Homo sapiens: one gene and its partners. The protein of the gene in region 6 purifies or fractionates together with the protein of the main gene of each other region. This does not show direct contact. Each region holds a gene or a part of one and is shown on either strand. Other genes may lie near its edges.

The links.
Region 1: the proteins of HNRNPCL2 (region 6) and ZC3H7B purify together in Homo sapiens (affinity purification with mass spectrometry; one large-scale study listed by BioGRID and IntAct). This does not show direct contact.
Region 2: the proteins of HNRNPCL2 (region 6) and UTP15 purify together in Homo sapiens (affinity purification with mass spectrometry; one large-scale study listed by BioGRID and IntAct). This does not show direct contact.
Region 3: the proteins of HNRNPCL2 (region 6) and GUCY1B1 purify together in Homo sapiens (affinity purification with mass spectrometry; one large-scale study listed by BioGRID and IntAct). This does not show direct contact.
Region 4: the proteins of HNRNPCL2 (region 6) and CFAP410 purify together in Homo sapiens (affinity purification with mass spectrometry; one large-scale study listed by BioGRID and IntAct). This does not show direct contact.
Region 5: the proteins of HNRNPCL2 (region 6) and CAMSAP3 purify together in Homo sapiens (affinity purification with mass spectrometry; one large-scale study listed by BioGRID and IntAct). This does not show direct contact.
Region 7: the proteins of HNRNPCL2 (region 6) and NET1 purify together in Homo sapiens (affinity purification with mass spectrometry; one large-scale study listed by BioGRID and IntAct). This does not show direct contact.

Annotation. Positions count from the first base shown.
Region 1 is NC_000022.11:41,325,525-41,329,024, reverse strand, and holds part of ZC3H7B (zinc finger CCCH domain-containing protein 7B), read right to left. Parts: intron 3,462-3,500; coding exon 3,428-3,461; intron 3,305-3,427; coding exon 3,107-3,304; intron 1,820-3,106; coding exon 1,661-1,819; intron 1-1,660. UniProt on the Homo sapiens protein: May be a specific regulator of miRNA biogenesis. Binds to microRNAs MIR7-1, MIR16-2 and MIR29A hairpins recognizing the 'ATA(A/T)' motif in the apical loop.
Region 2 is NC_000005.10:73,568,743-73,572,242, forward strand, and holds part of UTP15 (U3 small nucleolar RNA-associated protein 15 homolog), read left to right. Parts: intron 1-754; coding exon 755-933; intron 934-1,843; coding exon 1,844-1,969; intron 1,970-3,500. UniProt on the Homo sapiens protein: Ribosome biogenesis factor. Involved in nucleolar processing of pre-18S ribosomal RNA. Required for optimal pre-ribosomal RNA transcription by RNA polymerase I.
Region 3 is NC_000004.12:155,790,021-155,793,520, reverse strand, and holds part of GUCY1B1 (guanylate cyclase soluble subunit beta-1), read right to left. Parts: intron 1-3,500. UniProt on the Homo sapiens protein: Mediates responses to nitric oxide (NO) by catalyzing the biosynthesis of the signaling molecule cGMP.
Region 4 is NC_000021.9:44,332,891-44,336,390, reverse strand, and holds part of CFAP410 (nuclear encoded mitochondrial protein C21orf2), read left to right. Parts: intron 1-586; coding exon 587-633; exon of another isoform or gene 634-3,128; coding exon 3,129-3,358; intron 3,359-3,500. UniProt on the Homo sapiens protein: Plays a role in cilia formation and/or maintenance. Plays a role in the regulation of cell morphology and cytoskeletal organization. Involved in DNA damage repair.
Region 5 is NC_000019.10:7,602,363-7,605,862, forward strand, and holds part of CAMSAP3 (calmodulin-regulated spectrin-associated protein 3), read left to right. Parts: intron 1-2,863; coding exon 2,864-3,117; intron 3,118-3,500. UniProt on the Homo sapiens protein: Key microtubule-organizing protein that specifically binds the minus-end of non-centrosomal microtubules and regulates their dynamics and organization.
Region 6 is NC_000001.11:13,114,988-13,118,032, reverse strand, and holds HNRNPCL2 (heterogeneous nuclear ribonucleoprotein C-like 2), read left to right. Parts: upstream 1-1,178; 5' UTR 1,179-1,240; intron 1,241-1,451; 5' UTR 1,452-1,632; coding exon 1,633-2,514; 3' UTR 2,515-2,545; downstream 2,546-3,045.
Region 7 is NC_000010.11:5,454,057-5,457,556, reverse strand, and holds part of NET1 (neuroepithelial cell-transforming gene 1 protein), read right to left. Parts: intron 3,293-3,500; coding exon 3,035-3,292; intron 2,610-3,034; coding exon 2,439-2,609; intron 1,471-2,438; coding exon 1,284-1,470; intron 970-1,283; coding exon 563-969; 3' UTR 1-562. UniProt on the Homo sapiens protein: Acts as a guanine nucleotide exchange factor (GEF) for RhoA GTPase. May be involved in activation of the SAPK/JNK pathway Stimulates genotoxic stress-induced RHOB activity in breast cancer cells leading to their cell death.

The DNA of each region.
Region 1 (3,500 bases), on a different chromosome or scaffold from region 6:
AGTAGAGACAGGGTTTCACCATGTTGGCCAGGCTGGTCTTGAACTCCTGACCTCAAGTGATCCACCCGCCTCGGCCTCCCAAAGTGTTGGGATTACAGGCGTGAGCCACTGTGCCCGGCCATCTCTTTCTTTTTTTAAACAGGAATGAGGTCACATTATATAGTTCTACAACTTGTTTCTATCGCCAAACAATCTCCTGCAACCCCCAGCAAGTGACGATACATACATGAGGCACAGGGTTGTAAGGCTCCAAGGAGGCAGGGCATAGAAAGCTTGTAACAGTGCCTGGACCACACTTAGTGATCACTAAACAGCAACCATCCTTCCTTCCCTTCCAAGGCTGTAATACAGAACATACACTACGTGCCAAGCAAGAGTGAGGGGCTAAGGATACCCCAGCGAACAGGGCAGATGGGCCCAGGCCTCATGGAGATTCCAATCTAAAGGGGGAGAACAGTCAGTGAACAAAGAAACAGGTGGCTACAAACTGGGGTCCAGGCACAAAAGGGCAAGGAAGACACTGTGACATCTGTGCACGTGTCTACCTCCTACCTCACTGACAATCTCCTAGAGGCCAGGGCCTGGGTCGGAGTCATCTCTGGTCCCCAGTGCCCAGCATGGAGCAGGAGCTCGGTCAGTATTTGCCCAACAAAGATTGGGAAAAGAGAGAGTTCCCTAAAGCAGAGCCAGGAGCCCTTAGTTACTTTCCCTGGCCATTTACTAACCCTAACTGGGTCCCAGCTCCTTTCTATCCGCTGTGGTGCGGATGAAACCTGCCCTGTCCTCCTCATGAGTAAGTACCAGTGAGACCTAGGTGTGGATCTGTTGTGGACACTCTAAAATGCTATATGGGTCAGGGGACCATGGTCATAAAGAAAGGCTTTTTTTTTTTTTAATAGACAAGCTCTTGCTTTGTCAAACTCAGGCTGAAGTGCAATGGTGCAATCACAGCTCACTGCAACCTCCACCTCCTGGGCTCAAGTGATCCTCCCACCTCAGCCTCCTGAGTAGCTGGGATCTCAGGTGCGTGCCATCATGCCCAGCTAATTTTTTTTTAATTTTTTGTTGAAACAGGGTCTTGCTATGTTGCTCAGGCTAGTTGCAAACTCCTGAGCTCAAGTGATCCTCCCGCCTTGGCCTCCCACAGTGCTGGGATTACAGGCATGAGCCACTGTGTCTGGCCAAGAAAGGGTCTTAATTGTGAACTAAACAGAATTAGCAAAACAGGCACACGCCATCATGCCCGGCTAAATTTTGTATTTTTTGTAGAGATGGGGTTTTGCCATGTTGGCCAGGCTGGTCTCAAACTCCTGACCTCAGGTGATCCGCCTGCCTCAGCCTCCGAAAGTGCTGAGATTACAGGCGTGAGCCACTGTGTCTGGCCTCATCATCTTTAAAATGAGAATAATCACAGTATCTGCCTCTTAGGGTTATTGCCAGTATTAGGTGAGTTAATACACACAATGCATCCTAGCAGTGCCTGGCACCCAGTCAGCGCTCAGAGAATGGGAGCTAGTGTTAACATCAGGATCTGCATGGCCATGTCACAGGGGAGGAAGTGAGACACAGAAGGATGTGGTGGCTGGGCCCAAGTGAGGGCCGGAAGGTCAGAAGCCTGGCCTCTGAGCAGGCACCGGCGTGGCTGCAGAGCCACACTCACGTGGGGCAGGGCGAGGGAACACCGGCTGCTGCACTCGTAGGCCTCCTTGTGGCGTCCCAGTTCATTGAGAGCGCGTGCCTTGCGGAACAACGCCCGGATACTCTCACTGTCCAGGCCCAGCGCCTTCTCGCTGTCCTCCAGCGCCTTCTCATACAGGCCCTGCCAGAGAGGAGCATGTGGTCACTGGTCAACACCTGTTACCCTCCCTCCCCCAGGCCTCCTGCCCCTGCCTAGGAAGGAACACCAGCTTCCCTTCCTGGCAGAGACAGAGGAGCTGAAGTCTTGGGTCAGGGACAGGGCTCGAGGCTCCAGGAGAGAAGGAAGCACTCTGGTGTCCAGACTCTGATCAAGGGTGTCTGTGTGTCCAGCTGATGGGGCTGCAGTGGGCACGGGCAGGATATTGCAGGGAAGGGCCTGAAGATCTACAACCATGAGCCCGGCCACTCAAGCACGTCTATTTCCATCTCTGCCTTTGGTTGGGAACATGATGAGCTGAGAGTAACAATGGCATCTCTAAGAGGCAGTGAGACCATGAAGGCAGCTCTGTGTGCAGAGTGTACAAGGGTTAACCCTGAGGCATCCAGGAGCCATTTATCCAGAAGAGTTCGCTGGATGGCAGAGGTGTCATGGGGTCCTCTAGAGAGCCTGCAGCAGAGCCTCCCACAGGATCTCATGAACCTGAGTCAGTGGGTGCACAGGACAGGGAAGAGGAGGAGGCTGCAGCTCTAAGGAGGAGAGGAGGAGGAGGAGGAAGGCACTGAAGTCCGCAAAGAAACAGGAGGCTGAGGCTATGGGAGAAACAGTGAGGAGGCTGAGGCTATGGGAGGAACAGTGAGGAGGCTGAGGCTATGGGAGGAACAGTGAGGAGGCTGAGACTATGGGAGGAACAGTGAGGAGGCTATGGAAGAAACAGTGAGGAGGCTATGGAAGAAACAGTGAGGAGGCTGAGGCTATGGGAGGAACAGTGAGGAGGCTACGGAAGAAACAGTGAGGAGGCTGAGGCTATGGGAGGAACAGTGAGGAGGCTGAGGCTATGGGAGGAACAGTGAGGAGGCTGAGGCTATGGAAGGAACAGTGAGGAGGCTGAGGCTATGGAAGAAACAGTGGGGCCGGGAGGGAGGAGCAGGAGAAGTCAGACTCCCACCAAGGCCCAGGGTCACCCCAAGATTCTAACTTACTTCATCTAGGGCAGGGCTAGGGCTAGGGCATCAGTATCATTTTTTTTAAAAACTTTTTATTATGCATCCGTACTTTTAAAAGCTCTCCAGCTGAGCATGTTGTACAGTTGAGATTAAGAGCCACGAGAACAGACAATGAAATTCTGAAAGCAGGCTGGGAGGAGGCTGGCCCTGGTCTACAGGCTCACTGGGGTATGGGCCTGGCTCGACTGGGCATCCAGGGGATCAGGGCAGCAGAGGAGGAGAGAAAAGAGGGTGCCAGGCTCACCATGGTGAAGTAGCAGGCGGCCCTATTGACATGCAGCTTGCACAGCAGCTCCCGGGGCAGGGCCACCTGGTCAGAGGCAGCGTAGTCGGCCACGTTCAGCCCTTCCATGTACTGCACCAGAGCCTGCTTATAGTCCTTCTCCCGGAACAGATCATTGCCCTCAGCAAACAGATTCTGCACCAGCTTGAGCAGAAAGGCCTGTTGGGGGCAAGGTGTGTAGGGGGCTCATGACCTCTGGCCCCAGCTCTGGCACCCGGCCCACGCCTCTCCCCTGCACATCTCCGCCCTTCACCTTTGCTCAGCCTGGCAGCTGACACTCACCTCATATTCTTCTTGCTTTAGGGGTAGTGTCGACCTATCAGGAAAAGAAAACACGAGGCCTGGGTGAGCCCGG
Region 2 (3,500 bases), on a different chromosome or scaffold from region 6:
AAGAGTGCTTAACTTGGGTTCCGTGGTCCAGTTTCATGGGGCTTATGAATTCCCTAGAATTGTATGTGATATTTTAGGAAATACACGTTTATCTAGGGAGCTACTCTGTAGCTTTTGGTTAACTTTAGTGGGGTCTGTGGCCCAGCTGAGATTATGAATTACTGACCTGAAGACAACCTTACAGCTGGTAATGACAGCTCTATAGGCCTGTACTGTCTTAGAGGCTCTTATGTTGAAGTCAAGTAGGAAGGTGGATTTTCTTCTTGAATTTATAGTGTTTTGCCCCTTAATAAATTAAGTGGCCATCACAATTTTATATTATAACTTTGTTTTCAGGATTGCCAATGTCCGTGCTGAAATTTGTTAAAATTTAACAGAAATTTATGTAACATGATTCTATTTAGTGGTAAATCTCTTTAGAGTTTTTTAAAGAACTTTTTGAAATTTTAAAAATTAAAGTGCCTTTGCTTCCATATTCAGCAGCTAAGTGGAATTGTTTATATACTAGAAAATATAATTTTAAGGCTATCCTTTAATTTTTTTTAACTTTACAATATAGGAGTATTTACACTTCTTAATTGGTTTGGGGGCAAACACTTGTAAGTTTTCTCTTTCTTTCATGATTTCCCCCTATGAAGACTCCCTGAAACTCAGCTGCTTTTTTTTTAATCTGAGAAAAAGGAGCATTTTATGTTAGAAGGTATCAGAAAAATAATTTTCTTGCTTTTTAATATACTGACCTTCAATCTTTCAGAGCAGTTCATACAGTAGATTTTACAGCTGACAAATATCACGTGGTCTCTGGGGCTGATGATTATACAGTTAAATTATGGGATATTCCAAACTCCAAAGAAATTTTGACATTTAAAGAACACTCTGATTATGTGAGGTGTGGATGTGCTAGCAAACTTAATCCGGATCTCTTTATAACAGGTTGGTGAACTCTATTCCCTCCTGAAGCAAATAATCTCACGGGGATGTACTTTAATGTTGCTATGGGACTCTTTTGGGATGGAGGGGTTTAAATTTTTTTTATAAAGGAATATGTTTCTGATTAATTCTTCAGTTTTTAAATTAATTTTTATGTATGTATGTTTGCATTTATTTTCAGACAGGGTCTCACTCTGTTGCCCAGGCTGGAGTGCAGTGATGTGACCATAGCTCACTGCATCTGCTACCTCCTGGGCTCAAGTGATCCTCCCACATAAGCCTCCCAAGTAGCTGGGACTACAGGTGCCCACCACCACGTCCAGCTACTTTGTGTATTTTTTTGTAGAGACGGTTTTGCCATGTTGCCCAGGCTGGTCTCGAACTCCTGGGCTCAAGTGATCCACCTACCTCAATTTCCTCCCGGAGGACTGGGATTACAAGTGTGAGCCACCATGCCTGGCTTCCAATTGTTTTTTATTTTCTTATTCTTCTTTTGTTGATTGTTCATGTCTTCCAAATGTGTTTGGAAAAATCAGGCTGTCTTGAAAACATAATAGACTCTCAGAACTGTAATGTATAGTACCCTGCCTCAAGCAGCCAAGAAACAAAGAGTGCAGTTTAGCCTTTGTGGGTGCCTTTACAAAGATTTCCAGATGATTCAGTAGTGACAGTAGTCCAAAGAAAGAAATATTTTAAGATCAGAGCAAGTTAGATTCTGTATAGTATTATGTAGTGCTTCTTCAGACACGATCAGTAGTAGATGGTTTGGAGGTCCTGTGTCTTCATGAATATACATATATGTCTTTTTAAAACTCCATCTAAGCTTTTTTTCCTTTTAAAATTTATATCTGGATACACACAGTTTTTGTTGTTTTAAACAGTCAAACTAAAAATTCAAAAATTGACATTTTAGGATCATATGATCATACTGTGAAGATGTTTGATGCACGAACGAGTGAGAGTGTTCTCTCCGTTGAGCATGGGCAGCCAGTGGAGAGTGTCCTACTTTTCCCCTCTGGAGGTCTTCTGGTGTCAGCAGGTACTTCTTAAAAATAGCTTTCACCAATATTGTTGGTTTTGAATCACGTTTGTTTAAAATCAGTTGCTCTTTGTAATTTATCAGTGTGCATTTGAATTGCATATCTAAGTCTTTGTTCAAACAGTTGATAGGTAGGACTGGCAAGCAGTTATCATTTATTGTGTACCTAATGTGAGCCAGGCACTGTGCTGTTACATATGAACTCTAATGCCCTAGATGATGCTACAAGGTAGTTAGCTTTTTCCCTACTTTACAGCAATGAAATAAAAGTTTTAACTTATTTTTCAAGGCAAAGTGGTAAGTGGCAGATCTGAAATCACAGAACTCGAGAGCTCTGTGTATTTAGCCCTGTGCCATCTTATTTATTTAGCCCTGTGCCATCTTATTTAACCCCAGAAATTTAGCCCTGTGCCATCTTATTTAACCCCAGAAATTTAGCTCTTATGTATTTAGCCCTGTGCCATCTTATTTAACCCCAGAAATTTAGCTCATACTCCTTTTACTCCTACCTAAGAGATCTGCAGCAGCTTTTGAAAATCAGTTATTTGAGATCTAGTAGGCTTGTCTCTTTTTCTGTGACTCTCTTGATTGAAATGCCACTACCCAGCAAATAGCTGCTAGTACTAGAGAAAGGAGATAATGTGGCCTCAAAAGGGGCCTTGGTACATTTTTCAACAAGTTGGGACTGAGATGTTTTTCTCATTTTGCACATATTGCATTTTCATAATTACAGTGGAAGAAGTAAATTGGCTTTTTTCATTTGTAAATAAAGTAAAAATGTGTTCATATTAGAAGAATGTATAGGTAGTATGTATACTTGACAACATATATATTGCTGTGTGTACCTCCTTTTTTTTTTTTTCTTAATTCTAAAATCTGGCTAGAAATTACTCTGTTTTATATTCTTTTCCCCAGTACCTATTTGATTTAAAAATAAGTTGAGGCGGGATGTGGTTGCTCACGCCTGTAATCCTAGCACTTTGGGAGGCTGAGGCAGGCGGATAGCTTGAGTCCAGGAGTTTGAGACCAGCCTGGGCAACATAGCAAGACTCTAAGACTCCATCTTTAATTAAAAAAAGAAAAAAGTTGATAATGTCAGATGTGTCTACTTTTCTTGCTGTTATTCTGACAAATGGAAAAAATATCATGTTGAACAGGGAGAATAGAAAGCTGTGTGCTGATCTCCACTGTGTGTCACTAGCTAATTGTGACCTCGGGCAATCCCTTAAGGTCTCTAGACCTTGAAAATGAGAGGGTTGGACTAGATCAGTGATTTCAACTGTGATCCCTCTTGTGAGGTGCCACATAGGAGTGGAGAGGTGGGAACTGTGAGTTGGGTTCCAACTCCTGTTCCCCAGTCAAGATTTCAGTCTCCCCTTCCATCCCTTTTTCTGTCTTTCCATATTAGACTTTTTTGCTTGATATTTTGCTGCAGATCTACATTATTCACTTCCACTGCTATATAGAATTTCTTTTAAAAAATGATTTTATTATAATTTTCTTAAAATGGACTCTTTCAGTTATACATTTA
Region 3 (3,500 bases), on a different chromosome or scaffold from region 6:
GCTAAAAGCAAGCTAGCACTATCAAATAAGATTACAATACTATTTTAAAACAATGGGAAATAAAATGATAGAGATTCATATTCAAAAATAAATGCAATGTCATTTTTAACCATCAACTATCAAATACATAAAGTTACAATACCAGGCCAGGTGCAGTGGCTCACGCCTGTAATCCTAGCACTTTGGGAGGGTGGGGCGGACAGGTCACCTGAGGTCAGGAGTTTGAAACCAGCCTGGCCAACATGGCAAAACCCCATCTCTACTAAAAATACAAAAATTAGCCAGGCGCAGTGGTGGGTGCCTATAATCCCAGCTACTCGGGAAGCTGAGGCAGTAGAATTGCTTGAACCTGGGGAGGCAGAGGTTGTAGTGAGACGAGATCATGCCATTGCATTCCAGCCTGGGCGACAGAACGAGACTCTGTCTCAAAAAAAGAAAAAAAAGTTACAATATTAAATTGGGTAAGGTACTGAAAAAGAGGCATCTCAAATACCACTGATGAGGGGGTATTTTGATTAATCTTTCTGAAGGATAAATTGACAATAGGCATAAAAATTCCTTAAAATTTTGTGGATTCTTTGATTTAATTGCAAATCTAGGAATTCATTCTAAAGAAGTAATCGTAATTGTGAGCTAATATCTATAATGTAAAAAAATCCTACTTTTCTAAAGTATTATTCACAGGCAAATACATTATTAAAGTATAGATTTTCCTCTTCTTTTTGGGTTAAGAAATTGCAAGCAATGAGCCCTCTTACAAAGGGAAAACTCGATCTCAACGGCAACCAGACCCAAAACAGAAAAAGTTTGGGACAACATTTCTTCAGTTACAGCTAAATAAAAACAAAATGTTGTTCATTTTTCTTTTCTTTTTTTTTTTTCAGGAGTACCCTGTCGCATTCTCTGCAATTTTTAAAAACAAATCACAATAACTATAGATGCTATTGTATATATTCTTTTAGATATATTTTGTAGCAAAACTGGGATGTTACTACCTCACTGTCAGAATAACTTACTATACTGGTTAAATATTAGTATCCTTATTTATAATTTGAAAATTTTACCACATTAAGGTTGATTTCCCTAACTCATAGACAAGGCAAGAGAGTCAACCTTAAATGACAGGCCTACTTTTGATGTTCTACTCTGTTTCTATTTAACTAGAGAAATTGAATTATATGTATCCTAAACTTATGAATTAATTATTCAATTCTAATTTTTTTGCTTTGATCAAACTGGCAAAACAAATAGCTTTTCTAATCATATTTTTAACTTCTCATTGGTATATCACTTTATGACATGATCTAGTATTAACCATGTGGTTCAAATTGTCTGGTATCTCTGGACCTGATAAACTTAATGTGAGAATCCCTCGAGAAGTCAAAACAGTGCTTTTGAAAAAATTAAACACATAAAATATACCTATAAAATGCAAATATTTCAGAAGTTCATATTGAAGCACTTGAATAAATGGTCAGAAGAGAATTTAAATATTTTATAAAGTGAACCATATAATTAAGTAAATACTTGAATTTCATACAGTTTGCTAAAGCCATCAATCTCCCATGCCAAAGATTCTAATACCACAGTAATAGTAGTTTCCAAGTGTGTCCTAATTTGTGTTTCTTTCTGAAGTTTCTACGAACCTACCTCTTTCTCAGTCTGGTTAAATAAAAATAAAACCAACAGTGCATACAATATGCATATACGTTCACTCAGTATAGATGCTGTGTTTTTTTTTGTTTTTCGTTTTGTTTTGCTTTATTTTTTTTTTTTTCTCTATTTTTTTGATAATGGAGTCTCACCCTGTCAACCAGACTGGAGTGCAGTGGCGAAATTTCGGCTCACTGCAACCTGTGCCTCCCGGGTTCAAGCGATTCTTCTGCCTCAGCCTCCCGAGTAGCTGGGATTATAGGCGCCCGCCACCACGCCTGGCTATTTTTTTAGTATTTTTAGTAGAGACGGGGTTTCACCGTGTTAGCCAGGATGGTCTCAATCTCCTGACCTCGTGATCCCCCCGCCTTGGCCTCCCAAAGTGCTAGGATTACAGGCGTGAGCCACTGCGCCCAGGCGATACTGTTAGTTTAATGTCAAGAACAAAAGACTGGCCGGGCGCGGTGGCTCACGCCTGTAATCCCAGCACTTTGGAAGGCCGAGCCGGGCGGATCATGAGGTCAGGAGAGAGAGACCATCCTGGCTAACACGGTGAAACCCCGTCTCTACTAAAAATACAAAAAAATTAGCCGGGCGTGGTGGTGGGGGCCTGTAGTCCCAGCTACTTGGGAGGCTGAGGCAGGAGAATGGCGTGAACCCGGGAGGTGGAGCTTGCAGTGAGCGGAGATCGCGCCACTGCACTCCAGCCTGGGAGACAGAGTGAGACTCTGTCTCAAAAAAAAAAAAAGATTGGAAATGTGAGGTATATACTATTTTGATTGAATACCAGTGAGATTCCCAATCATGGATGAATTGTGATACTTTACCCAAGGCTTTAATTTTTAAATGTCTGCATTTGATAATGCCATGTTATACACAGTCCTACTTTCTATTAGGTTGGTGCAACAGTAATCGTGGTTTCCGCCATTACTAATGGTTGTAGAAAACTAACGATGCACCTGGAAATCACCAAAAGGTGCCACGTAAGAACTAACACCAACTTCTGAAAGAAAGAAAACCATGAACTCTAACATAACTTTACTAGATTAAATATGTGGAATATCTTTCTAATTTATTTAAATGTTACTATTTTAATTTTGGATAATACTCCACTTAAGGGTTTTAGACCTCCCAAGTGTGTTACAATATATCTATGATCTATAAGAAAGAACTGTCTAATAGGTTTTCTATAAACAAAGAAAGGTTGGAAAAAGGTATCTATCTCCCCACTTTGGCCTCAAGTTTAAAGCTACTGAGAATTGACTCTTGGGTATGAACATGCTGAACACATAAAAAGCAGCCTGACTGGGAGAAACCGTAAGGGCCAGAGGTAAAGAGAAACAGTGGTTCTCTTTGTTGTACGGTTGCCCTATCAGTACCTTGAAATCATCACTCAAAACTAAGAGTGTGTATTATCAATAACAGCACAATTTTTAAAGTACCAGACCTGGCTTCTTTCACCAAGTAACTTGATTAAAAACAAAAACAAAAACAAACACTTTCATTCACAAAATTAGACATTCCAACTATATTTCGGGGCAGACAAAAATCGACAAAGAGAAAATGATCTATAAAATAATACTTAATTTTATATTGCCTTAGAATTTGACTATCCATATTATGGATATTTTGCATGCTGAAACCCACAGCTCAGTCGTCACATATCCTTCTGCTTCCCAGCTGGTGTGTGTTCACAGGGAATGCAAAGTAAATTTCTTGTAGCCTTGAACACTATATAATTAGAAAGAAAAATCTGCTGCCAGAAGGAAAAAAATATCCTGTATAATGCACTCCCAGGCCAAATATAGAAGATTGCTGGTCTTTCCACTGTTTTGGCTTATATATAC
Region 4 (3,500 bases), on a different chromosome or scaffold from region 6:
CCCTGCGTAGGGGACATTGGGGTCCCCTTACCTGATGTCCTTTGAGGGCATCTAAAGTAATGAATGCTCTGTCTCCACTGCTGGCAGCATCTGACAGCAACGATGCTGTCGTAAAATTTAATAAAGACAGAGTGCGTGCAAGGAGGAGCCTCACATTTCTCCTTCAGTCTGCGGGGCGTCTGGGCTGCAAGGTGGTGTCAGAGGAGAACCTGGCATACTCGTGGGCATTCATCCTGGGCACACTGGCTGAGCAGGGCCGCTCCCCTCAGGCCCTGGGCATTCACCCTGGGCACACTGGCTGAGCAGGGCCGCTCCCCTCAGGCCCTGGGCATTCACCCTGGGCACACTGGCTGAGCAGGGCCGCTCCCCTCAGGCCCTGGGCATTCACCCTGGGCACACTGGCTGAGCAGGGCCGCTCCCCTCAGGCCCTGGGCATTCACCCTGGGCACACTGGCTGAGTAAGGCCGTGCCCCTCAGGCCCCGGAAGTGGGTTGGCCGTGGCTTCGACAGTTCTCTGTGGCTGATGGCAGTGCGGCCGCGATGCCCTGCTGTGCCATGCTTGCTAGTCATGTTCTTTTCCTCCTAGATCTCCATTTGCCAGGAGATGCCCAGCCTGGAGGTGATCACGCTCAGGTACCTCGCTCCTGCTGTCATGCTCAGCCTGGGGCCTGGAAGCCGGGGCAGAGCCTCACGTCCCTCCAGTGGGACCCAGCACTGTGACATAACCTGGAAACCTCCAACACAGACTGAGGGCGGCTTCCAGAAGGGGAGGGGCCGGGACAGCGAGAGCTGGGCCTACCCTGTGGCCCCCATGTTCAGCCCTCCTTCCTCAGAGCCTCACCTGGGCCTCCTGATGGCTCCTGTCCCCTGCCTGCCCTGCTGTACGCCTGCCCACCCTTGGCCTGTGTGCTCCGATAAGCCATTGCTGTGTTCACTGGGCCAGTCGGTGGTGGAGCCCTCCTAAGGATTCACGGTGGCCCGCCCTGGCCGCCCCCACGGTGGCCACATCTGCCCTGGGACCCCCAGAGTCCTGGCCTCTTCTGCCCCCCAGTGCCACCACTGCCTACCAGTTTCTCTGCACCCCATGACCTGTGCCCGTCTTCTGGGGTCACTGCCCTCCCAGCAGACTAAGGGAAGCTTGAATGAACAAATGTTACTGGACTTTCAGGCAGTTGGGGTGTATTTGGGGGCTCTGGGGAAGAGAAGAGCTCCCTTTATCCCTGAATTCCCTCCTGCCTACTGTGGGACCCACGGAGGGAGCAGACGCTCATGGCTCACCACTGCCCACCAGACGCTGGATGGGCGCCTTCTGTGGGTTTCCGCATTTAAAAGCTCACAAGGGTTTAAACCCTGTGGGGAAGGCCCACCCCTCTGGCAGCTCAGAAGTCTCTAGGGCTTGCCCTCTGAGAGTGGGTATTGCAGGCCCCTGGTCCCTGACTGTGACCTACCTTCTTGATCTCACAGGCAGCCACGGGGTAGGCCAGCCCCTGCCCATCCTCCGTAATGCCCTCTGAGGTTGGCATTGCCATGTTGATGCCCGTGCCCAGCCTGCTGCCCGCCATGGGCTGAGGCCAGTCCATCTGGTGTTCAGGCATCCCCAGCGCGGGCACCAGCCTGTCCTGCCCGAGCCTTGCTGAATGAATGAAATGGGCTTGGAGGCATGCTCATGGGTCAAATCTCAGCCCTCCCATCTATTGGCTGGCTAACCTTGGGCGAGGCATGGCCCTCTCTGTGCCTCAGTTTCCTTTCTGTAACATGGAGGTATTACAAGTGCCCACCCCACAGGGAGATGAGGAGGAGATGGAGCCCGAGTCCAGAGGTTGAGCAGGGGTGCGCGTGCCCGCCCAGAGGTTGAGCGGGGGGGGGGGGGGGGTGCGCGTGCCCGCCCAGAGGTTGAGGGGGGGTGCGCGTGCCTGCCGCGGGGCTCGTTTCACTAGTCAGGCGACACAGTGAGGCTGGGATTTCAGGCCTGCCTCCGAAAGGCTTACCTGACAGGGAAACGTGGAGCTTGTGGTTCCCACGGTGGCAGGAAGCTTGGGGCGGGGCTGTGGATCCAGCCCTATCCCTGCCGCTCACTGAGTCACCCAGGGGCCACAGGGCCTCCGAGCATCAGGCCGCTCGTGTGTGGGGCCATTTCTGTCACATCTCGGGAGGGACAGGACCCCAGGGGTGTTGACCGAGCTCAGGTGCGTGGTGCCTGCACGCCTGACTGCACTGGAGCGGAGCAGGAAGCCTCGAGGCCGCGGACGCGGTCGGTACATCACGCTGCTGCCTGTGCCTGAGGCAGACCCCATCCTGGAAAGAGTCCCACAGCCGGAGTTTTGCTCTTGGTAAAATGGGGCGGCCTCATAGCTAGGAGCTGCATGAGACCTGGGAAACCCCGAGTGAAGGGATGGCATGGGGAGGGGGGCTCAGGACGGCAGGCTGCCCATGGGGGCCTGGTGACCGCCCTTCTGAGGCGCCTGCCGGACGCGAGTGCAGCCCTCCAGGCAGGGGGCCCTGGCTCCGCGCCTTTGAGGGCCTGCGGGAGCGGCTCCGCGTGTTCGCTTGTGGAGGGGACGGACCCCACGCTGCAGGGTAAAGCCTGCAGGTCCCCGCTCCAGGCCTGCTGTTTCTCTTCTCTGACGCGTCCACGTTCTGTAGAATGGAAATGAGGCCCATCCCCAGTGTTGCCGCCCTCAAGTGGGGGTTTGGAAGGTCCGTGCTCACTCCCATGTCACGTGGAGCTGGCTCCTAGTTTTTGCCATGAGTTTTTCTGGCCGCTCCCTGCTTTGGGGCAACATGATATGTCCCCTGAGAGGCCTTAATTTTCCTCACCTGTGAAGGAGGGCCACATCCCCCACCTCCCGCACTCTAGCGCCCTGAGGAGCTGATGTGGAGCGTCGGGCCAAGGGGCTGTTGCTGGTGGGGTCCACCCCAGTCCGCCTTTGAGTTCAGGGCCTGGCCTTCCTACAGCTCTCTCCTCGGCCCAGGTCCTGCTGCACGTGACTTGTGACATCCGATTTAGGCTTCTCAGGAGAGGGCAGGGACACAGGTCCCATGAGTGCCTTTTACTGGGGGTGGGGATTGAGAGGTGGCCCTGGGGGCCCTGGCCACGTCCCTCGCTGACTGTGCTGGTCTCCGTGCAGTGTCAACAGCATCTCCACCCTGGAGCCTGTGAGCCGGTGCCAGCGCCTGAGTGAGCTGTACCTGCGGAGGAACCGCATCCCCAGCCTGGCTGAGCTCTTCTACCTGAAGGGGCTGCCGCGTCTGCGGGTGCTGTGGCTGGCCGAGAACCCGTGCTGCGGCACCAGCCCCCACCGCTACCGCATGACCGTGCTGCGCACCCTGCCGCGCCTACAGAAGCTGGACAACCAGGGTAGGTGGCCGCAGCGGAGTCACCGGCCCTCCCAAAACAATCCCTGGAAGGGGATGTCCCCAGCCCTCTTTTCTCTTCTCCTTTTCTGCAAATACCTGGTCTGGCGGGACATAGATGTGTCCTGTGAAGTCTCCTCCAGAGG
Region 5 (3,500 bases), on a different chromosome or scaffold from region 6:
AGCCCTAGCTTAAGGTTTTGGTGTTTTTTGTTTCTTGTTTTTCATCTTAAAGGCCCTGAAAAGTCCTGTAGGAAAGAAACACGTGTGATTTTGCTGGTGGGAGCAAGACGTGCCCAAGGCCGGGGCTGGGGAGGTAGAGAGGAGGGTTTGGATTTGGGAGATATCAGGAAGTTGAAAGCCAAGGACGCATTAAATGTGGGGTGAGGGCGTAAAGAAAGGGAGGGAGGGTGATTTCTCACTGCCTTGGGGGCAGGGAGGAGGGGAGGTGTGGGTGAGATGTTGAGAATTGTGGGAGATGCCCAGGGTGCAGTGGGGCCCGTGGCAGCCGCTGTTGCAGTCTTCAGGTGGCCCTGGAAGCCGTCACGGGGTAGGGTGGCCTGGGGTGGGGGTGGGGCATGTCCATTTACAAGGAGACGCCTGTGGGAGGAAGGTTTCTGGAAGAAGGAGGCACTGGGCACAGAGCCCAGGCGAGATACGGGCCCACAGATATGCTTTGGAGGTCCCTGCTGGCCTTGGGGAGACCGGAAGCCATGAGGGCAGCATCGAGCTCAGGGAAATTGAGGGAGAGGTGGAGGGGGGCTGGGAGGGCAGGGAGGAAGTGAGCCTGAAATACCTCTTCTTTCAAGGAGCCAAGATGAGAGGGGCAAAAAGAAGGTCCAAGTCTACATGCGGGTGGCGCGTTAAGTGGGACGGTCCAGTGTGGTTTTAGAAGGTGGGAAAGGAGCCAGGACAGGGAGGGACAGAAGGCAGCCAAGAGTGCCTGGGTCCTCACAGGTGGAGAAGTCCCGTTCAAATATGTTCTGAAGCACTAGAACCCCTTACCCTGTTCTTTCTTTTCTTTTTTTTTCTTTCTTTCTTTTTTTTTTTTTTAAGACAGAGGCTTGCTCTATCACCCAGGCTGGAGTGCAGTGGCGCAATCTCAGCTGGCTGCAACCTCTGCCTCCCAGATTTAAGCGATTCTCCGGCCTCGGCTTCCCGAGTAGCTGGGATTATAGGCGTGTGCCACCATGCCCAGCTCATTTTTGTATTTTTAGTAGAGATGGGGTTTCACCATGTTGACAAGGCTGGTCTTGAACTCCTGACCTTAAAAGATCTGCCTACCTTGTTTTCCCAAAGTGCTGGGATTACAGGCATGAGTCACTGCACCCGGCCCCCACCCCGTTCTTTCAAACACACACACAGAACCCCAATATACAAAACAAGTCTGGGCACAGTGGCTTACCCCTATAATCCCAGCACTTTGGGAAGCCAAGGCAGGTGGATCACTTGAGGCCAGGAAATTCGAAACCAGCCTGAGCAACATGGTGAGGCTTCCATCTTTATAAAAAAATTTAAAAATTGGCTGGGTGTGGTGGCACGTGCCTGCGGTCCCAGCTACTCAGGAGGCTGAGGCAGGGAGGATCCCTTGAGCCCAGAGTTCAGGTTGCAGTGAGCCATGATCGTGCCACTGCACTCCAGCAAAAACTCAAACAAACAGAGAAGGCTGTGCAGGCTGGGCGTGGTGGCTCACGCCTGTAATCCCAGCACTTTGGGAGGCCAAGGTGAGCAGATCGCTTGAGGTCAGGAGTTCAAGACCAGCCTGGCCAAAATGGTGATAACCCTGTTTCTACAACATACAAAAATTAGCCGGGTATGGCAGCATCGCACCTGTAATCCCAGCTACTTGGGAGTCTGAGGCAGGAGAATCATTCGAGCCCGGGAGGCAGAGGTTGCAGTGAGCCAAGATTGCACCACTGCCCTCCAGCCTGGGCGACAGAGAGACTCTTATCTCCAAAAAACCGCAAAAGCTGTGCAGATTAGAACAAGAGCTGGACAGATTCCCTGCTGTTGATTTCAGTCACCTCTTCCCCGACCCCTGCCAAGCCTTCCTGGCCTTCTCCTCTCCACTCTTGGTCCTACGTGGATTTCTGCCCCCAGCCCACTGTCCACCTGGGGCTTCCTCACGCCTCTTCCCATTGTCCTATTTAGGGACCTCAGGCTGTCTCTATGATGTGACCTCACCATCTCTCTAAGCCCCAGCCTTTCACATAATCTGCCTCAAGGATGTCCTCAAAGCCCCTCACATTCAATTTCACCCCTTCACCTCCCATTCCTCCTGCACCCAAGCTCAGTCATTACCCCTCTCTTCCCTCTTCCCCCTCAGACCCAGCAAGGTCCTGGCTACCTCCCTCTCTGTCCCTTGCCTCCTCCCTTCAATCACCAGGTTTACATCACTCAACTCCCTCGATGTGCCTGTGGTGTGCCCACCTCCCCTGCTCGCCTGTGTGCCCCCCACTCATCCCCCCCTGCCTGCAAGCTAAGAGAGGGCGTCCAGTTTGCTGGGTCTAACCCCAGTCCTGGTGTTGAAGAGTTATTTGGCCTGGGGCAAGGGACTTTCCTTCTCTGTGCCTCAGTTTCCTCCTCTGTAACATGGGGGTTGCCAATTGGGCCCTGGCTGCCTCCTAGCGTTGATGTAAGGCTCAGTGAGTCTACATTGGCAAGAGCAGGAAGGCTCTTAGGATTGCCGATGTTATTGTCTTTCCTGGGACCTACAAGAGCCAGTCCAGCTGGCCTGGTATTGGGGGTAGCCTCCCCTCCTTTCCACTCTAAGTGCCCATCAGCTCCCTGAGGCACCGTGTTCTCTCCCACCTGCTGGGCTTTGCATCTGCAGGCCCCTCTGCCTACAACGCCATCACCCCTTCCTCCAGCAAACTCCTGCACATCTGCACTCTCAGCCCAGATCCCCTTTCTCCTTTCCCAATGCCATCCTCCCTGGTCCAGACACACTCTTAATCCGGGCCATGTGGTGTGTGTGTGTGTGTGTGTGTGTGTGTGTTGTATCTGGTGACCCTGACCCCCGTGTTTCCCCTCTATGCCCCCACAGAGCACGTGCCCCCGGAGCTGTGGGAGCCCTTCTATACCGACCAGTACGCGCAGGAGCATGTGAAGCCCCCGGTGACACGGCTGCTGCTCTCAGCCGAGCTCTACTGCAGAGCCTGGCGCCAGGCACTGCCACAGCTTGAAACACCCCCCAACCCCTCTGCACTGCTGGCCCTGCTGGCGCGGAGGGGCACAGTGCCTGCTTTGCCCGAGCGCCCGGTGCGCGAGGCCGACCTGAGGCACCAGCCCATTCTCATGGTAGGCCCCGCCACTGCCTGTTAGACCACGCCTACCATGCTCAGCTCCTCCCCTCAAGCTCCTCCCGCCAGTCCTGGCTCCTCCCAAGTTCCCTCTATCAGTCTTGGCTCCTTTCAAGCTTTGTCGATTAAGCCTAGCTCCTCCCATCAGGCTTGGCTCCTCCCCCAGGTTCCTCCCACCAGGCCTGGCTCCTCCCCTCAAGCGCTATTAAGCCTAGTTCCTCCCACGAGGTCTGGCTCCTCCCCTCAAGCGCTATCCATTAAGCCTAGCTCCTATCAGTCTTGGCTCCTTCCCTTAAGCTATGTCCATCAAACCTAGCTCCTCCTATCATCAGTCTTGGCTCTGTCCCTTAAGCTCTGTCCATCAAACCTAGCTCCTCCCAC
Region 6 (3,045 bases):
TTTACAAGGCTTAAATTGTTGTCTGCAGGGTAGTTAAGGGGAACTGTAAGCTAAGGTCTACTTGATTTGGGGACAGTAAGCTGCCAGCAACCATGAGGAAGAAGGTCAGAGAGCAAGCTGACCTCATGGTGAATGCTGAATGCGCTGCAAGCTTGGTTTATTTTTGTTTCTCCCCCTCCCTTCTTCACTGATTAAACTTATAAAGTTTACAGGTATCATTTCAATTTCTTCCAGAGAAGACTTAACCTAAGCCCTGAGACCACTCAAGCCCTCAGTGGCACCTCTCTTCCACCAGCACGAGTGAAGAAACTGCTACCTTAGGTGATATAAAACCCACAAGACCATTCCATACATGGAGATCTTTATTCTTATTTTGTAGGGACGACTCCTCTGTGTTTATACAGCTATTTTAACTAGAAATATTTTTATAAATTTTATAATTTTGATGTGGCCAAAGATCTCCCCACAACACTACTTTCAGGTTTTATTTTTCTGTCTAATGTCTGGAACAGATCAACCCCTTCCCTGCCTCACATCAGGACTTGAAGGCGAAATAGCAGTAAAATTCCATCAGTGTTTGTGGATTTCATGAATGAATGCATTTTTTTTGACAAAATCTCCCTCTGTCGCCCAGTCAGGAGGGCAATGGTGTAATCTTGGCTCACTGCAAACTCAGCCTCCAGGGTTCAAGGGATTCTCCCACCTCAGCCGCATGAGTAACTGGACTACAGGCAGCCACCATCGTGCCTGGCTAACTTTTCTATTTTTGTAGAGACAGGGTTTCACCATGTGGGCCAGGCTGGTCTTGAACTCCTGACCTCAGGTGATCCACCTACCTTGGCCTCCCAAAGTGCTGGGATTACAAGTGTGAGCCACCTCACCTGGCCTTGAGTGAATGAATTCTTGATTTCCACTCTATCCCTAACTCTGTCAATTTCTTAATTCATAAAATGATTATGCATATGTGATATGAATGGATATCTCGTTCAATCCATTAGTCTTCGGACAGTCAAAAACCCAATCAGGATTAACTGAGTGGAGCTTCAGAAATGCAATCAGATATCGCTTTTTGATTGGAAGCTAGCAGCGGATACGTGGAGGGGCGTGGGTGGGAGTTGTGATTAGAAAGGTCAATAAAAGCTTCTAAAGACCCACAGGACAAACTCAAAGTCTTCAAGCCTGGAGTTCCTGCTTGGCTCTTCCTGAGGTCTGAGCACCTTCTAAACTACAACCAGATCTGGTAAGTCACTAATTTCTGTAAGGACACTCCCATGTGACCTACAGTCAGCCGGTCTAGAACGGTGACAGTGCAGCCTACGATGGCATAGAACTATATCATGTCTTTTTTTCTTTTTTTCATATGAACACTTTGAAGCTTTGATTTTTTTTTCTAAATGCAATTTTGTCGTGATTTCAAAAATGTTGTTGTGCTTTTCTTTACATCATTTCAGAATTCTTGTTGGCAGCCATTTTGTGAAGAGACGAAGACTGAGCTGTTTTGGCTGCATTTCTGGCCTCGAGCCGCAGTCAGTTTCTCCCCGTAGAACCCGGCAGTAGGAGACTTAGAATCGAATCTCTTCTCCCTCCCGCCTCCTGTTTTTGGCTTTTTGAGAAACCTTATCATCCAACACAATGGCCAGCAACGTTACCAACAAGATGGATCCTCACTCCGTGAACTCCCGTGTGTTCATTGGGAATCTCAACACTCTTGTTGTCAAGAAATCTGATGTGGAGGCGATCTTTTCCAAGTATGGCAAAATTGCGGGCTGCTCTGTTCATAAGGGCTTTGCCTTCGTTCAATATGATAAGGAGAAAAATGCCCGGGCTGCTGTAGCAGGAGAGGATGGCAGAATGATTGCTAGCCAGGTTGCAGTTATTAACCTGGCTGCAGAGCCAAAAGTGAACCGAGGAAACGCAGGTGTGAAACGATCCGCAGCGGAGATGTACGGCTCCTCTTTTGACTTGGACTATGGCTTTCAACGGGATTATTATGATGGGATGTACAGTTTCCCAGCACGTGTACCTCCTCCTCCTCCCATTGCTCTGGCTGTAGTGCCCTCGAAACGCCAGCGCATATCAGGAAACACCTCACGAAGGGGCAAAAGTGGCTTCAATTCTAAGAGTGGAAAGCGGGGATCTTCCAAGTCTGGAAAGCTGAAAGGAGATGACCTTCAGGCCATTAAGCAGGAGTTGACCCAGATAAAACAGAAAGTGGATTCTCTCCTGGAAAACCTGGAAAAAATTGAAAAGGAACAGAGCAAACAAGAGGTAGAGGTGAAAAATGCTAAGTCAGAAGAGGAGCAGAGCAGTAGCTCCATGAAGAAAGATGAGACTCATGTAAAGATGGAGTCTGAGGGGGGTGCAGAAGACTCTGCTGAGGAGGGGGACCCACTGGATGATGATGATAATGAAGATCAGGGGGACAACCAGCTTCATTTGATCAAGAATAATGAAAAAGATGCTGAGGAAGGAGAGGATAACAGAGACAGCACCAATGGCCAGGATGACTCTTAAGCACATAGTGGGGTTGAGAAATCTTATCCCATTGTTTCTTTACCTAGGAGCTTGTCTAACAACAAATTTTTCACCAGATCCTCTCCCTTAGTATCTTCAGCACATGCTTACTGTTCTCCCCATCCTTGTCCTTCCCACATTCATTAATTCATATTGCCCTGCGCCTAGTCCCATTTTCACTTCCCATGACACCCCTAGTAGTTTTCCTAAGTCTTACCCTGTAATTTTTGCTTTTAATTTTGACACCTCTTTATGACTTAACAGTAAAAAGGATGTATGGTTTTTATCAACTGTCTCCAAAATAATCTCTTGTTATGCAGGGAATACAGTTCTTTTCTTTCATACATAAGTTCAGTAGTTGCTTCCCTAACTGCAAAGGCAATCTCATTGAGTTGAGTAGCTCCTGAAAGCAGCTTGGAGTTACAAGTATGTGTGTTACACCCCATATTAGTGTGCTGTGTGGGGCAGTTCAACAAAAATCTAACAATGTATTTTTGTGAATGAGAGTTGGCATGTCAAATGCATCCTCAG
Region 7 (3,500 bases), on a different chromosome or scaffold from region 6:
CAGTGAAAAACAAACTAATATAAAGCATTCCAGTTGATAAAAACCTCCTCAGGCTTATGGTTTGTTTTCCAAGGAAATTATGTTTCAATGTAAAGTTTGAAATACTCCAGACATACATTCCATGTAGGTTTTGGGTGCCAATGTTAAAATTTCAAATTTTGCATGCAAGGCTTAGCAAAGAAACACTGGCAGAATTCCAGCATTTGCAAAATTCTAAGTTTTGGTGAATATTGTAAATATTACAATTGGTATTAGAAAGCCATGATGAATCCAGAATTAAGAGAAAACCCATTTCATAAATATTTTGTTTGATTAAAAAATACCAGGCTTACCATGTTCTAAATAATTCAAGAAAATATCTTTAAAAAAAAAAGGACTGCAATTTAACAGTAATCTGTATATCTTTAGCTGCCATTAAAAAAAGAAAAAAGAACAACCAAAAACAATGAAAATGTTACAACTGGTATAAAGTAACCCTATGATGCTCCCCTTACGAGAAAACAAAACTGTACACATTTATAAACAAACAGTCTCTCCCATCAGTTAACACACAGAGCCTTCTCTACACCAAAGTCTCTTTCCGTTTGCCACCAGAAAGGGCTTTGTCCCTCGCTCTTCGGATGCCGGGCTGTGTCTGGTGTGTCTTTAAGCTCTTGCTGTCCTCTGCCATCTGCATGCCAGAGCCACATCTGTAAGCGTTTTCATCAACTTCTACCTGAGTAACACTGGAAACTGTGGATGCCCTCCTCTGGGCTGTGAGTTTCCTCGCAGAGGGGTGGTTCCCCTCACACTCTTCGTGCAGCTCCGGCAGGCCCTGCAGCTCAGGTGGACTGCCTGCCGACTGGAAGGGGGCAATGGCCGCTCGAATACAGTTGAACCACTGCTGCTTGTGGAACACGTCATTGGCTTGCAGAGTGTGAGACTGGGCTGGAGAGGGGTCATGGAAGCGAATTCTAAAGATATTTTTAGCTGAAAAAAAAAATTGGAAAAAAAAAAGAAATCAGGCTAAAAAAAGGTTTATTCTAGACAAAGTGGTCATACAATCTTAACGTGACTGTCAATTTATGGCAATTTATTTATGTCAATGTGAATACATTAAGCCTATGCATTATTTCTTAGATACACCTGCGGGTGTTCGAGCTGGGAAGGCCTGGACAACTCAATGGATGTAACAAGTATAGGACAATGGAGCCATTTCATCTCTAGAATTCTTAAAGGCAAAACTAAATTCACTTCAGTTCTGAGCTTCTATTTCTTTAAATTATTGAAGGCCTGCATTTTACCTTTCTCTGAGTTACTGAAAGCTCCTCGAAAGGAGCCTCCCATTCTCACATCTCCATCCTGCAGGTCTTCTAGGACTAGCTCTTGGACTGGGATTGGCTGCCGGTAAACCTGGTAAGAGTGCCGTTCGTTCCGTGTGACGGGCCGAGTCAGAACCAAGATGTCTTGAAACAGGAAAATGTAAAGTTTCTGGAGAAATGGGAAACAAACGCTAAATAGGAAACTTGTGTTTTTAAGTGACTGAAATATATTGCTAAAATAACTCGACATTATTAATTTCATCAGATTTATTTTTCGAAGATCTCTCTAAGTGACAAATCTAGTAATCCATAAAGATGGCAATTTCAAGGCTAAGCATGTTCTATTTGGAAAGTTTTTCCAATCTCAGAATAAATAAAATGTTTCTTATTGGTATGTAATATCAGATTAAGCAGCAGCTAAGTGAATGCTCTGCATCACAAAGACCTATTAGTAGCAACATGACTTGAAACACTAGCGTTGTATACCACAGTTTTCTAACACGAAGGAGGGATTAAAAATGCAAGCTGGTAAAATGTTAATGGTTCTATTTTGTCCCACACAAATTTATACCTTTATAAATTTTCCCCTCGTGAGGGAAAAATCAAAGATGTCAGATTTCAAATTTTTTTAAACAAAACTCCAACTTATAAATTGGGCTTTTGAAAATGCATGATGAAACAAAAATACCATTCCGTGACTGCACTTAGTTCTAGCAGGTACTTTTATAATTAGCATTTAAAAAATACATTTGCATTCATTCAATCTGCTTCAGAAATTTGTTATGTAGTGCGAAAAACCACTTTCATAAGCATAAGATAAACTCTTAGAAGTTTTTTTTGAAGGATGCTTTTTTATTAAGCATTATGGAACTAATACTGTATTTAGACAGGAACCCCTGGCCTAACAAGTTGATTTATGCTTCGAAACTAAAAAATAAAGTATTACTGATTCTCCACTGAGACATTTAAGGTATCTTCTTTGTTGGCTTTATCAAGCTGGTAATATAAAATTAAAATTGGCAACCTTCTTTTACTATGTCATGACTTTCCCTTTACAAGCCTGCTTCATAACAAACGTGTAAAAGTTAAAGAGGCAGGAGGGAAGGCTGCTCTGCCACGGCAGCAAAAGTCACCTACATGTCCACTCTTGCTCCGCAGCTCCCCATGGCACAGCAGCACTTTGCTCGCTTCGATTCTGGGGTCCCTCTGCTTTTCATCCAGGTACTCCAGCTTGTCGATGTAATACTGGCACTCGGATTCACCTTTCTTCAAGTTGATATCAGAGAGGACTCCCTGTATTATCAATATCTGAAAATGATAAATAAAATTGACAGAGCAGCTTCAGTTTATTAACTCATTCTGCTTCCTGCAGAGCAAAAATGTCATATGGAATGGAAGAACTTTAAAGCTTGAAGGGACTCTAGAAATCAGTTAATTCTGCCAGTCTGTTCATTTTATAGATCAAGAAACAGTCCTAGCCAAATTGAGTGATTTGTTCAAAGGTGACAAGGTGAGATCAGATGAGAATCCTGTCCCTTAAGATACAAAATGTGCGAAGTCCAGCATACACAGCTCCTTATTGCTTAGTGCACAGCGTACTAACGCACTGGGTACTTAAAACAACAAAACAATTCACTATGCTGATGTGAATCAGCATCTTCAGAAGATAACGTTCTAAAGCAGCCTAATGTATAAACTTAAAAAACAAAACAATCACTTAAGGGACTACTTACAGCATCCTCCAGAAGCTGAACATCAGGGTGCTCTTTTGGAGTGTGTTTAAGAATTTCTTTTAACAGTAAAGGGTATTTGACTAGGCGACTTCGAGGGATATCTAGGAAACTCCAAAGATCTAGTTTTCGACTGAAGGGAGACTCGAGACATCGCTGGAGGAAGTCTTGGACTCTTGGATCCTGTTTCTTTTGATCAAGAAGAGCTTTGGCTGCCAGCTGGTTACTACAGTAACCTCTGTAGGCATTCAAGCGCGGTAACTGAAGAGTAATAAAAGAAAAGGTATGATGTGTTCCTGTTATGACCGAGTGCATTAACAAGCCTGCAAACATGAAACACAAAATGTACAGCTATTCTTGAGAGTTTTAACAAGCTGTGGACATTTTCTGGCAGATAATAATGGAAGCTGAATAGCATTTTAGCAATCATCAAAATGCTCTTCAAATTTTCATAATTTGGCTAAATCCA